Linked DNA regions of Homo sapiens. The protein of the gene in region 2 purifies or fractionates together with the protein of the main gene of each other region. This does not show direct contact. Each region holds a gene or a part of one and is shown on either strand. Other genes may lie near its edges. The genes, in order: HPRT1 and FAT3.

Region 1 (3,828 bases), on a different chromosome or scaffold from region 2:
GGAATGTTCACATAGGTGACACACAAATGTCCCATTTTCATTCTTTCTATAGTAAATATGTTCTGATATGTGAAGGTTTAGCAGATGCATCAGCATTTAATCCTAGAGGATCTGGCATAATCTTTTCCCCCAAGAATAGAAATTTTTTCTGCTTATGAAAGTAGTACATGTTTCTTTAAAAACAAATCAATATTGACTTCTGCCTGCTGTATAGCACTATGCCTCCACCTGGCCATGACCAGGGGCATGTCCTGGTCCACCTACCTGAAAATGTTTGCAACCAGCCTCCTGGCCATGTGCACAGGGGCTGAAGTTGTCCCACAGGTATTACGGGCCAACCTGACAATACATGAAGTTCCACCAAAGTCTGAGAACTCAGAACTGAGCTTTGGGGACTGAAAGACAGCACAAACCTCAAATTTCTCAGCACTGGAAACCTCAAAATATAACTGAATTCCATAAATAAGATTTTAAGTCTTAAATATGTATTTTTAAATGTATTAAAAGTCAAGCTGCTTGTATTTAAGCACCTAATACAATGCTTAGGTTGTAAAAGGAGATGCTCAATAGGTACTAACTGATATATTGAGATTTAATTATGGTTTGACCAATATTTATTGGAAACCGCCAAAGCTTAAATCATCAGCTTCTTGAATGTGATTTGAAAGGTAATTTAGTATTGAATAGCATGTGAGCTAGAGTATTTCATTCTTTCTGGTTTATTTCTTCAAATAGACTTTGAATATAATGGTGAATGGGTATTATAAATTAACTAATAAAAATGACATTGAAAATGAAAAAATATATATATTAAAGTGTAGAAAGTGACCAGGCGTGGTGGCTCACACCTGTAATCCAAGCACCTTGGGAGGCTGAGGCAGGAGGATCTCTTGATCCCAGGAGTTCAAGACCAGCCTGGGCAACATAGCGAGACTTCGTCTCTAAAAAAAAAAAAGAGAGAGAAAAAAATTTTTTTTATTTAAAAAAAGTGTAGAAAGTGTCAAGACCCCACTTCTTACCATTATTTGGTATATTTCTCTATACCCACCCACCCTTCCTCCTTACTCCCTCCCTCCCTTCCCAATCTTTTTATCTTTTTGTATTCTGATTTTTTGTTTGTATATTTTGCTTTAATTTAATGTATCCTTTAAAAATTTCCCATACATTTTATATGTATATATAAAAACGCATGCTGCCAAAGATAATTTATAAGAAAGACCATTGAATTTTTTTAAAAGTGATATATATTCATTGAAAAAAATTTAGAATATATAGCAAAGCAATAAAGAACTAAATAAAATTGCTGTAACTCCTCTTTCAAAGATAAGTGCTTTTATGATTTTGTTGTATTTTTTTCTGTATATAGGTACATATATAGTATTTATAAAGCTGTACTCATAGTACATTTTCACATCACAGGTACCATATCAGTGTTATTAAATATTTTGTATGCCAGGGGCTAGACATACCAAGACAACCAATATGTGGTTCTACTTAAATAATATTAGAGTATCTTTTATGATGACACTTCATGAGTTGACTATAATAATCTTAGACTTCTAAGAGTTTGGGTTTTCAAAAGATCACTTAGCTTTTTTGGGTGATTTTTCCCCCTTACTGTGAGATGAGAGAGGCTGTTTGGATTTGGGATTGGGGTAGCGGGGACAGCAACTTTTCTTTTCTTTTTCTTTTTTATTTTGAGGTAGGGTATTGCTGTGTCACCCAGGCTGGAGTGCAGTGGTGTGATCTCGGCTCACTGCAACCTCCACCTCCCGGGCTCAGGTGATCCTCCTGCTTCAGCCTCCCCAGTAACTGGGACTACAGGCGCGTGCCACATGCCTGGCTAATTTTGTATTTTTAGTAGAGATGGGGTTTCACCATGTTGGCCAGGCTGGTCTCTAACTCCTGACCTCAGGTGATACGCCCACCTGGGCCTCCCAAAATACTGGGATTACAGGCATGAGCCGCTGCATCAGCCAGCAGTTTTTCTTGTGGTTTTTTTTGTTTGTTTTGTTTTGTTTTGTTTTTGAGATAGGGTCTTACTCTGTTGTCCACGCTGGAGTGCTGTGGTATGATCGTAGCTCACTGCAGCCTCAAACTCCTGGGCTCAAGTGATTCCTTCTGCCTCCGCCTCCCGAGTAGCTGGGACTACAGGTATGCACCACCATACCTGGCAAATTTTTACAAAGTTTTTTGTAGGGACGGGGTCTTGCTACATTCCCCATGTCGGTCTTGAACTCCTGGCCTCAAGCAACTCTCCTGTCTCAGCCTCCCAAAGCACTGGGATTACAAGTGTGAGCCACCACACCATGCCAGTTTTTCCTGTTCAGTGTGATATTTTATCTTGTTAGACTACAGTGTGTTAAAACTTGTTTTACTAAATTTTCAAACATACTCAAAAGTGGAGAGAATAGTATAATGAATACCCGTATGTTCATCACCCATGTTTAGAATATTATTAAATATAAAGATTTTGCTGCGTTTGTCTTAGCTCTTTAAAATTTTTCTTTTTCTCTTTGTGACCTAAAGGAAATTCCATATCTTATCACTTTACTTCTACATTCTTGACTAAGATGACTAAGACATATAGTTACATGGTTTTTTGTTTTGTTTTTTGTTTTTTAAAGACGAAATCTCGCTCTTGTCCCCCAGGCTGGAGTGCAATGGTGCCATCTCAGCTCAGTGCAACCTCTGCCTTCTGGGTACAAGCGATTCTCCTGCCTCAGCCTCCCAAGTAGCTGGGATTACAGGCTCCTGCCACCACGCCTGGCTAATTTTTGTATTTTTAGTAGAGACGGCGGGGGGAGGTTTCACCATGTTGACAAGGCTGGTCTGGAACTCCTGACCTCAGGTGATCCACCCGCCTCGGCCTCCCAAAGTGCTGGGATTACAGGCGTGAGCCACCGCGCCCAGCCTGTTTTTTTGTTTGTTTGTTTTGTTTTTTTTGAGACAGAGTCTTGCTCTGTTTCCCAGGCTGGAGTGAAGTGGCGCATTCTTGGCTCACTGCAACCTTCACCTCCCAGGTTCAAGTGATTCTCCTGCCTCAGCCTCCCAAGTAGCTGGGACTACAGGCATGTGTCACCACACCCGGCTAATTTTTTTGTATTTTTAGTAGAGACGGGATTTCACCGTGTTGCCCAGGCTGGTCTCGAACTCCTGAGCTCAGGCAGTCTGCCTGCCTCAGCCTCCCAAAGTGCTGGGATTACACGTGTGAACCAACCCGCCCGGCCTGTTGTTTTCTTACATAATTCATTATCATACCTACAAAGTTAACAGTTACTAATATCATCTTACACCTAAATTTCTCTGATAGACTAAGGTTATTTTTTAACATCTTAATCCAATCAAATGTTTGTATCCTGTAATGCTCTCATTGAAACAGCTATATTTCTTTTTCAGATTAGTGATGATGAACCAGGTTATGACCTTGATTTATTTTGCATACCTAATCATTATGCTGAGGATTTGGAAAGGGTGTTTATTCCTCATGGACTAATTATGGACAGGTAAGTAAGATCTTAAAATGAGGTTTTTTACTTTTTCTTGTGTTAATTTCAAACATCAGCAGCTGTTCTGAGTACTTGCTATTTGAACATAAACTAGGCCAACTTATTAAATAACTGATGCTTTCTAAAATCTTCTTTATTAAAAATAAAAGAGGAGGGCCTTACTAATTACTTAGTATCAGTTGTGGTATAGTGGGACTCTGTAGGGACCAGAACAAAGTAAACATTGAAGGGAGATGGAAGAAGGAACTCTAGCCAGAGTCTTGCATTTCTCAGTCCTAAACAGGGTAATGGACTGGGGCTGAATCACATGAAGGCAAGG
Region 2 (3,828 bases):
CTGTAATTCTGAGGGCAAAATTGCCATTTTTAATGCCAGAATTTGTCAGTGATTTTTTAAGCTGTAAAACACCAGAATCTGGGTTTAAATAAAAGAAGCCAAGTTCATTTCCAGAAATGATTTTGTACTTTACAAGTTCAAGTTCATCGATATCGATCGCTGAGACTGCTGTGATGTGACCACCAACTGGAAAGTCATATGAAATAACTCCCTGGCAAGCCACTTTTTCAAAGAGAGGGCTGTTGTCGTTGACATTTCCTATTCGAATAGTCACATTGACCTCACTTTCATGGCGGTATGGTGAACCCCAGTCAGAGGCTCTAACAATGAATCTGTAAATTTCTGGGGAGGATTCAAAATCCAGTTCTTCAGTTGTGCTAATAACACCTGTAAACTGATTAATGACAAATGGTAACAAATTCAGGCTAGCGATACTATAGGTGATGTACCCATTTTCTCCTTTATCCTTATCAGAAGCTGAAACTGTTAGAACGCTGGTTCCCACTGGGACACTTTCATTCACATAAGCATCATACAGTGGTTGCTGAAATTCTGGGGTGTGGTCATTTGCATCTTCTATGCTGATGGTGACCTGTGCTTTTAAATCTCCTTCCTTGTTTGTCACCTCCAGTTTATAAACCTCCTTCTTAACAGTATTCAGTGGCCGTGCTGTAACAATCAGACCCGACCGAGGATTAATTTTAAAGTACACTGCATCCTCACCAGGAGATAATTTGTATTCCACATCTATCGGTTCAGGACTTAATTTTACTATAGCAACCACGACACCAGGAGGGGAAAATTCACTTATGCTCACATCGTACACTTCTTTTTCAAATCTAATGGGGACAGTGTCTCTTGTGGGGTTGCCAATGTAGACTGCCTTTAATGCTGAACATTTTTGAGGAGATCCCTTGTCTTTTGCTTGAAGAGTGAGATTGTAGCCATAGGGAAAGCTCTCCCAGTCAATCTGCTTCCTCTCCTTAATCTTGTACTCATTCAACCACTTTCCTTCCTTAGCCAGGAAGAACTGATCTAAAGGATCCCCAGCCACAATGGAAACAGATTCGATCTCTCCATTCGCTCCATCATCTAAGTCATCAACTGTCACCACTGCATATGTTGGCTCTTTTTCCAACGAGAAAGGAACATGAGTGACTACATGGATTGTTGGGGCATGTTCATTTATGCGCTCAATGTGAACATAAAGCTTTGCAGTACTGCTCACTCCATTGTTCCCATACAGTTTCATTCCCCGGTCCACAGCCAAAATTTCCAGATCATACCTATTCTTTTCATCATAATTTAATCGACCACTTAAGGAGATGACACCACTCGTGGGGTGAACTGAAAAGAGATCAACTTTATTTTTAAAGTAGTAGTAGAATTCTCCATTGGAACCAATATCTGCGTCTGTTGCAGTCACCTGGGCAACACTAGTCCTTAGAGGTGTGCTTTCTGCTATGGTAACAGAGTATGTTGTGGGTGAAAACAAAGGTCTCAGATCATTCATATCTAAAACCTGTATATTCACTTTGGTCCATGCTTCCAAATCCTCTCCTCTGACAGAACCTTTTACTATCAATAAATAATTATCCTGGATTTCCCTATTTAATATGGCAGAATTGCCACCTTTAGTTCTTATTCTGAGAAAACAGAAATCTGCAATGATGACTTCCTCTGCTTTGAAAAAGCCTTCCTCGTCTCCGGACACTATTCTGTATTTGATATCCCAGGATAGATCTATTAAGGTGATGCCCATTCTACTCTGGCTGTTGACGTAGGTCCTTGCTGCTGAGTTCTCATACACGGTAGCATTATAAATGGAATGTGTGAAGTGGAAGCCCAGGGGTCCAGTCCCTGGCAGCCCCTGGGAGACAGTGGCCAAAAGCTTGAAAAGCAGGAGGATGAGGCAACAAGCAGGAGGCCGTGTGCCCACACAGTGTCCCATAATTATATCCATCACATCATACTTCCATCCTGGAGGGAAGAAAGAGAGAGAGAAAAGATAAATTAACCATCCTAGAAGAAGGGGGAGAGTGGGAAATAACTATTAGGAAGCCATGCTTTTTAAAACTTTATCACAAAATCTTTTTACTAAAACAGCAATATAAGAAAAAATTAGAAACCTTGCCACTACTAGGTAATAAGGAACTTAAGATTACTAGAATTTAGCCCAATCTTGTAAGAATTGTTTTCAAGTGACACTTTGTTTTAAATAACACTTTTATACTACTGACAGCGTTGTTCATTGGTACAAGATTTCTTACATTCTGAAGGTCAATTTAGAGATATATTGGAAGCCTTAAGTGCATTTACCTTTGACTTAGAACTGCCTTTGCAGTAATTATCCTATAGAAACATTTAGACAATTATCTGTTATAGCACAGTTTAAAGTAAAAAAAAAATGAAGAGATGCTAAATGCCTATCAATAGAGGACTGAATAATTCATGGTGTATTCATAAAATAAAATATTATGCAGTCATTAAAAATAGAGACATAAAAGATGTGCATTTTCAGATGCAGTAAGATGTAATGCTAAGGAAAAAAGGTCATCAAACAGTATATATAGCATGAGTTCTATTATTATATAAACACCTATATGTGCAAATGAATTTTTATATTTAAAAAGGATTAACTGTGTTTTGGGATTTGGTGGCATATTTGCATTTTCTAACTTTTCTTCAATGAACATTGTTCATCAATAGTTACATAATTACTTTTATAATTATAATCTTTTTAAAATGCTTCAAGGTATTACCATCTTTTATTGTGCTTACTTTTAAACTGATCAAGGTTTATGAATAATGCAATGCCATGAGAATGAACAAAGTGTCAAGTTACAAAGCAGAGACAATAATCCCTAAGGAGTTATATGACTGGAGTGATATCCAGAACTATTCAGAACAAGGGAGGTAAGAGTGATTACTTGCAAGAAAAACTTTAGAAATTACAAGAGATACTTCCAATTACTTTCATCAATGACTATTAAATTTGGACAGTTTCTACAGTTTCATGACTATGTGGGTTAAAAGATACAAACTTTTTCCTATTTTAGCCAGTAAAATCAATCAAGGAGAAGGGAGAAAGGAGGTATTCAACAAGAAAAAGTTAAGTCTATTCATACCCAAAGGATCAGATTTTTAGAACCCCCAAATATGAGTTCTTCCATCCAGTCTTATACTCTGCAAGCCCTTGACATTCTCCTTTTCTTCCTTTACAGGGAACGTGAAGATGAGAGGAGATGGAAAATGAATTTCTTTGCAGGCATGTAATGATGTAGGCACTGTGTCAGTCATTTTTCCACTTTGTTGTATTTAATCTTCATGATAATCCTAAGTAATAGGTACTATTTTACCCAATGACATATTAGAAAACTGAGGGTCAGAGAAGTTAATCTATTTAGTTGAGACATTTGCCCAAACAATGTTCCCCAGCCGGCAAGTAGTAAAGCAGGATCTCAGACCTTAATCTTTCTCTAAAATCCATGCTTTTCCCCATCACACAATCACTCTCTCAAAATTACCTGCAAGCAAGAATGAAATAATTAAGGATCCTAGAAGCATATATGACATAATTTAATTCTAATGAAATAGTCAACATATGTCATTGATTTTAAAAAGTACAACCCATCCCTGCCCCCAGCATATCTTTTTGGTTATCTCCTCTCTGGTTTTAATGTAGTTCTAGTTATTGGCTGCAAACTGAAAAAAAAAAAAATCCCTACAGGAGTTTAACATATTAAAATATTACAAATTGTATGGTTTATAAAACCCTTTCATATCCAAGGTTAGCAAGGCACATATTATTATAACCTTTTTGTTAAT

What was found.
Region 1: the proteins of FAT3 (region 2) and HPRT1 fractionate together in Homo sapiens (co-fractionation; one large-scale study listed by BioGRID). This does not show direct contact.

What each region holds. Positions count from the first base shown.
Region 1 is NC_000023.11:134,469,960-134,473,787, forward strand, and holds part of HPRT1 (hypoxanthine-guanine phosphoribosyltransferase), read left to right. Parts: intron 1-3,399; coding exon 3,400-3,506; intron 3,507-3,828. UniProt on the Homo sapiens protein: Converts guanine to guanosine monophosphate, and hypoxanthine to inosine monophosphate. Transfers the 5-phosphoribosyl group from 5-phosphoribosylpyrophosphate onto the purine.
Region 2 is NC_000011.10:92,350,248-92,354,075, reverse strand, and holds part of FAT3 (protocadherin Fat 3 isoform 1 precursor), read right to left. Parts: intron 1,981-3,828; 5' UTR 1,964-1,980; coding exon 1-1,963.